Homo sapiens: one gene and its partner. The protein of the gene in region 2 purifies or fractionates together with the protein of the main gene of each other region. This does not show direct contact. Each region holds a gene or a part of one and is shown on either strand. Other genes may lie near its edges.

Region 1 (3,661 bases), on a different chromosome or scaffold from region 2:
TTTAGAGAACTGGGTCGAGTGTTAGTTTTTTGGGTTTTGTTGAGCGGTGGGGAAAATATATCTAAAACATTTACCATTTAAACCATTTTCTAAAACATAACATTAAATTTGCCATCTTAACCATTTTTAATGTGTACAGTTCAGTAGGTGTTAAGTGTATCACACCATTGTGCAACAGATCTCCAGAGCCTTTTCATTCTGCAAAACTGTAATGCGTTGTTTTATACTCATTAAACACCTTCCTATTTCCCTCTTCCCCAGCCCCTGGTAATCACCATTATTTCTGTTTCTATGAATTTGACTTTAGATAGCCTCATATTCATATAAATGAAATCACATAGTATTTGTCTTTTCATGCATTTCAAACATTTTTAAGTGTACAATTCATTGGCATTAAATTAATTCACACTGTTATACAACCATCAACACTATTCCTCTCTGGAACTTTTTCATCCTTCCAAACTAAAACTCTGTGATCATTAAGCAATAACTCCCCATTACTCTGTCCCCCAGGCCCCAGTAACCACTATTCCACTAATTTTGTCTACTATAGGTACCTCACACATTATTTGTCCTTTTGTGTCCAACTCATTTTACTTAGTAAACTATTTTCAAGGCGTATCCATGTGGTAGCATGTTAGAATTTCCCTCCCTTTTAAGGCTGAATAATATTCCATTCTATGTGTATACCACATTTTGTTTATCCATTTATCCACTGATGAACATGTGAGTTGTTTCCACCTTTCAGCTATCGTGCATAATGCTACTATGAATGCTGGTGTACAAATAGCTGTTTGAGTCTTTTTTGTTGTTGTTTGTTTTGAGACAGGGTCTTGCTCTGTCATCCAGGCTGGAGTACAGTGGCATGATCATCAGCTCACTGCAACCTCCGCTTCCCGGGTTCAAGTGATCCTCTCACCTCAGCCTCCCAAGCAGCTGGTACTACAGGCATGCGCCAACATGTACAGCTAATTTTGGGGGGTTTCTTGGTAGAGACAGGATCTCACCATGTTGCCCAGGCTGGTCTTGAACTCCTGAGCCCAAGTAATCTGGCCTCCTAAAGTGCTGGGATTTACGGGCATAAGCCACCTTGCCTGGCCCTGTTTGAATCTTTGATTTAAATTATCCTGGATATAACTCGAAGTGAGATCACTAGATCATATGGTAATTTCATTTTTAATTTTTTGAGAAACCACCCTATTGTTTCTCACTGTGGCTGCACCATTTCACATTCCCACCAGCAATGCACCAAGGTTCCAATTTCTCTACAACCTCATCACTTGCTTTTGTCGTTTGTTGTTGTTGTTATAACTATCCTAAATGGTCGCAAAGTAACATCTCACTGTGGTTTTGATTTGCATTTCCCTAATTATTAGTGATGCTGAACATCTTTCCATATGTTTATTGGGCATCTGCTTAGCTTCTTTGGAGAAATACCTACAGAGGTTTTTTTTTTTTAAATAGTAATTATGAAACAATTCACAAATTTGCGTGTCATCCTTGCGCAGGGACCATACTAATCTTCTCCATATCCTTCCAATTTTAGTATATATGCTACCGAGACAAGCACTCTGGATGGTCTTTTGGGGTTTTTTGTTTAAGACAGAATCTCACTCTGTCATCCAGGCTGGAGTGAGATGGTACAATCATAGCTCACTGCAGCTTCAAACTCCTGGGCTCAAGTGATCCTCCCATCTCAGCCTCCTGAGTAGCTGGGACTACAGGTGTACACCACCGCACCCAGCTAATTTTTTATTTAAAAGCTTTTTTTTGTAGAGATGGGGTCTCGCTAAGTTGCCCAGGCTGGTCTCGAACTCCTGAGCTCAAGCTATCCTCCTGCCTCAGCCTCCCAAAGTGTTGGAAATACAGGTGTGAGCCACAGCACCCAGCCTAATCAATCATTTCTTAAATGCAGGTTAGTGGAACCAACCTACTCTTCCAAAACTTAGCAAAATCATCCTGACAACAAAATGTATGTATTATACCTCTCTTAGGGACAAGAGCCTTTACCAACTTGATTTCTTACATGGAGCCGAGAGACTCCAATTCCCAGTGAAAAATATTCCCTGTTAAAAAATGAGTAAGCCTGTGGTGGAGAAAGGATTAATGACACCAAAAGGTAGCACATCCAGTATAGAAGCAGCCCACTAAAAGCTTGTGCTTTGGGGACAAATCCATGTAATTCCCACATCACTAATAAGTAACGCATTCCTGAGCTCATACTACCAAGATGGTTATGGTCAAATCAACCACTGAAATCTTCTCATCCAAAAGCAGTAACTCTCTTAAGCCTATTTTTCAAACAACCTTTCAATTTCTCTTTTTCTTTTCTTTTTTTTTGAGACAGAGTTTTGCTCCTGTTGCCCAGGTTGGATTACAATGGCACGATCTCGGCTCACCGCAACCTCCGCCTCCCTGGTTCAAGCGGTTCTCCTGCCTCAGCCTCTAGAGTAGCTGAGATTACAGGCATGCGCCACCACGCCCAGCTAATTTTGTATTTTTGGTAGAGACAGGGTTTCACCATGTTGGCCAGGCTGGTCTCGAACTCTGACCTTAGGTGATCTGCCCGCCTCGGTCTCCCAAAGTGCTGGGATTACAGGCGTGAGCCACCAAACCCAGCCCCAACCTTTCAATTTCTAAGAGCAGTCTTGCCCTATTAAGCCAAACAGCTAACATTCTTTTTTTTTTTTTTTTTTTTTTTGAGTCAGCGTCTCACTCTTGTCACCCAGGCTTGAGTGCAGTGGCACGAGCTCAACTCACTGCAACCTCCGCCTCCCGGGTTTAAGCAATTCTCCTGCCTCAGAGCCTCCCAAGCAGCTGGGGCAACAGGCACACACCACCATGCCTAGCTAATTTTTGTATTTTTAGTAGAGACGGGGTTTCACCATGTTGGCCAGGCTGGTCTCAAACTCCTGACCTCTGGTGATCCACCTGCATTGGCCTCCCAAAGTGCTGGGATTACAGGCATGAGCCACTGCGCCCGGCCACAGCTAATATTGGTAAGTCTGATCCCAATCTACTTCATATAATGATCAGAAAGTAGGTAAAAAGGAAAAATTTTACATAAACTACCCCCAATTCATATTAAGGGGATCCTGATTGTACCACCTGTCTGCCTACCTGCCTGCCTTCATTCATTATTTATGGTGCACCCATTAAATGCAGGTACCCTTCCAGGTGTTTAGCACACATGAGAAAAAAAAAAAAGACAAAGATTTCTGCCTTTGTGCAACTTATATTCTGGTGCCCTTGGATTCGTTTTGAGATTGGTTGAGTGTACCATACCAGTAATTTGTTTTTTGCAGCAGTCTCCAATAAATCTGACCATAAATACAATACATAATTTCTAATACGGATGTATGAGAATTGAAAATATATAGAAAAATTCAAATACAGTAGTCTTTGTGAACACCATCCTATAAATCTATAAAAATTATTTCTTCAAAAAACCATAGCCAATAAGAAACTTAAATGACTGCACCTGAAATAATGAGGGCCTGCCTTATTTTGGCAGTCAGGTCCTTCTGAACACCTGCAAGATAACTACTTCTATACAAACCTCTGGATGTTTTCTGTTTTTGTTTTATCATACACGGTCTCGCTCTGTCACCCAGGCTGGAGTGCAGTGGTGTGATCCGAGCTCACTGCACCTTTGAACTCC
Region 2 (3,761 bases):
CAAAAAAAGTAAAACAGAAAAAGTGAAAGAAAATGACAAAACTTGGTTTTCAGAAAGATGACAATATGTAGTTAGTTTAATTAGGTTGTCCAGCTGGGAAAAGACAGTTTAGAGTTTACAAAATAAAATGCAATATTAGTAGATGTATATTATAGTAAATCTAAAGTAATAATTTTTTCTTACTAAAGAGACATCATTCACATGATTTAAATAAAAATATGCCAAAGGAAAAAGAATATATTTAATTACCTTTAAAAACGCTAATACATACATCCAAGGTTGTTAAGACTGATCACTCTGTGAATAGTATAAAAAGGTGGCTGAAACATTAACTACAGAATAATGATAAAAACAACCATAACATCTTTCCCCTTTATTGTAGTGGGGCAAGGACACCATATCAAGCTTGAAGTACCTTTAATGTTCAAATTGTATACATTCTGCCTGGTTTATAGAGGAATAATTTCTGTAAAATTTAAAATTCTAAAAAAAGGTCAGATGCAGTGGCTCACGCCTGAAATCTCAACACTTTGGGAGGTCAAGGCAGGCGGATCATGAGGTCAGGAGTTCGAGGCCAGCCTGGCCAACATGGTGAAACCCTGTCTCTACTAAAATACAAAAATTATCCGGGCGTGGTGGTGTGCACCTGTAATCCCAGCTACTCAGGAGGCTGAGGCAGGAGAATTGCTTGAACCTGGGAGGTGGAGGTTGTAGTAAGCCGAGATCGCACCATTGCACTCCAGCCAAGGCAAAAGAGTAAGACACTGTCTCAACAACAAAAATCTAAAACAAAGTCTTTAAATTTTGGTTAATATTGTATGACATTCTTTCTCTTTGGGAATGAATATATTGGCAGGTTACTTAACCTATGTAAGCTTCAGTCAGGCACAGTGCCTCAAGCCTGTAATCCTAGCACTTTGGGAGGCTGAGGCAGGGAGATCACTTGAGCTCGGGAGTTCAAGACCAGCCTGGCCAACATGGCATAACTCTGTTTCTATAAAAAATACAAAAATTAGCCAGGCATGGCGGTGCATGCCTGTAGTCCCAGTTGTTTGGGAAGTTGAGGTGAGAGAAAGCTTGAGCCCAGGAGGTCAAGGCCGCAGTGAGCCATGATCGTACCACTGCACTCCAGCCTGGGTGACAGGGTGAGACCCTGTCTCAAACAACAAAAAAATTATCTGTGTAAGCCTCAATTTCCTCAACTACAAGATAGGGGAAATAATCAATGAGGATTAAGTGAGAGCATACAGTATTCATGCAGAACATGAGAACAACACTTGAATTTATTCACTCTAGCAATCATTGTCTGCTTACATAATAGCCTACAAAGGATAATCAATGTATTTATTACCATTATTTAGTCTACTGAAGAAACATGCAGAACTTGAGAAACCAGGCAGACTACCTTGAACTGAATTCTTAGAAAATTAAATATATTGTATCTTAGCTTTCACGTATGTCATTTCTGTCCAATATGTCTCTTTCAAATGTCACCAGTTACATACAATATCCCCTCTGACCTATGCTGGTGACCTCTACCTATTGTGGAGGAATCTCCACCTATTGTGATGTCATCCAGTACTTTATGGTAATATTTATTTTTTCTGGTTACAGTTTAAAGGGCACTTCTGTTTGTGGAGTAAAGCCTGCCACATTGTCAAAATATGTAACTGGAGGATTACAGTATGCTTACCTCTGATTTTATTTCTACAGTGCTGCTATAAGTAACAATGAGTAAATCTACTAAATTATGTGGTAAGACTTCTTGTCCAAGAAGCAATATATTCTGCAATCTCCTTGACAAAATTGTTAAAAGACCCTCCCTACAGTTTTTGGGTCAGTGGGGATATCACTGTTACGAACCAAGGATTTACAGATCACTGGCAAAAATTCTGAGGTATGTGGACTTGGATGGTTTTGACGCACTACTCACAGATTACATTGCATTTGTGGAAAAATCAGGATACCGTTTTGAAGTAAGTTTTAACCTCGACTTCACTGAAATATGTGTGAATACAATTCTGTACTGGGTTTTTGCCAGAAAAGGTAATCCTGACTTTGTGGAATTGCTTCTCAAGAAGACAAAAGACTATGTTCAAGACAGAAGTTGTAACCTGGCACTGATATGGAGGTAATAATTTCATATGTTTTCACTATAGAACAAGAAAATTTATCTTTACGAGAGTAGAGTGCTTCTTTTTTCTAAAACTCACATGTATAGTGGCTATATGTGAAGTAAGGAATTCTCACCTAATTGCTTGACCACGTGTTCACTCCTTCACTCTTTTATTATGTATTCCATTTTTATTTATATGTAAATTATTATGTACCAATAAATCATTAGTGATTCTGCTCTACACAGCTTACATGTTAGTGCTAAACAACATGTTTCTCTAACTAAACAAAGACACTATGTTGTGTAATACTATGATCTCCTATTTCTGCGAATCCTATGGTTTTATATTTATATATGTTTATAAGCTGACTTTCAAAGTACAATTGGGAACATGCACACATCTTCACATAGTAATACTTATTAAACACAATAGTTCCCTATTTGTGTGTTAAACATTTATAAATTAGACTCCAAATTCTCCAAATTTGAGCACAATGAAGGTCAAGTACCTGATGCTATCGATAATAGAACCAAATTTTTATAGTGTTCACATGTCAATCTACCTAATGCATACTACTGAGGATCTTATGAAAATCAAATCTCCAATGTATCCTCTTTTTAGAGTCCATAATATAGAATTTAAAGTTACCTAGTTTGCACTAACTTTAATTTATTCTTTCGTTTTAGATATTCATCTGAATAAAACATTCATGTGTTCATTCATTCAGCAAAATATTTATTAATCACATTACTATGTATGCAAGTCTGTACTAGGTGCAATATAAATGCATGTATGCAATGAAAAACAAAATGGACAAGATCAGTTAAAGACTAAACCAATTTAGATTCTGCCTAAAGCAGAGTTTTTTCTTGATTGTGCATCCTATGGTATCGGAGAACCACTGGATTTCATTACTTAATGATTACTAAAGTACATGAACTGATAGCTGTAGTTTGGAAACAACAATAAACAAAACTACCAAATGGTACTTTGTGTTTTAAGTAACCATTATATTTGTAACTACAGCAGAGATCAGCAAATCTTCTAAAGCTGACTGTCACTAGCTGGGCTAAATAGTGCCTGTCTACAGCCCTGGAAGGTCCACGGGAAAGAAAAATTGAGGCAAACAGAGGGAGAGAGAATAAATTTTTAAAAATTAAAAATGGAAGCAGAGAGGAGAAAGCTGGACAGAAAATGAAACAAAGAGAAACACAGTGGAACATGATAGGGTGCCATTAACAACTGTCTTAAGACAGGTTTAAAATTAATCAATTTCAACTTAGATGCATCCACAAGGTAAAACCCATTACAGGCCAGTTCTACTGATCGCAACATCACTTAGACCTCTCAGAATCATAGAATTTTATATTTGTATGGAGCCTGAGAATTCATTAGCAGACCTTTACCCTGGACAGCAACTGGTCGATGCTCACTGGTCTCTTCTTAAACAATTCTAGAAGTAGTGAGTTAACTATTTCCTTAGGTAAACCGTTCCTTTGCCTTGGGGTCCTTGTTTTTCCTAGTGTTATATATATATATATATTTATATTTATATTTACATATATTTATATTTATATGTAGTTATATATATACATGTTATATATAGTTATATATGTTTTATATATATAACTAAATATAAATATA

The links.
Region 1: the proteins of ASB17 (region 2) and RAB10 purify together in Homo sapiens (affinity purification with mass spectrometry, with the first as the bait; one large-scale study listed by BioGRID). This does not show direct contact.

Annotation. Positions count from the first base shown.
Region 1 is NC_000002.12:26,040,584-26,044,244, reverse strand, and holds part of RAB10 (ras-related protein Rab-10), read right to left. Parts: intron 1-3,661. UniProt on the Homo sapiens protein: The small GTPases Rab are key regulators of intracellular membrane trafficking, from the formation of transport vesicles to their fusion with membranes.
Region 2 is NC_000001.11:75,930,261-75,934,021, reverse strand, and holds the start of ASB17 (ankyrin repeat and SOCS box protein 17), read left to right. Parts: upstream 1-1,617; 5' UTR 1,618-1,730; coding exon 1,731-2,131; intron 2,132-3,761. UniProt on the Homo sapiens protein: May be a substrate-recognition component of a SCF-like ECS (Elongin-Cullin-SOCS-box protein) E3 ubiquitin-protein ligase complex which mediates the ubiquitination and subsequent proteasomal degradation of target proteins.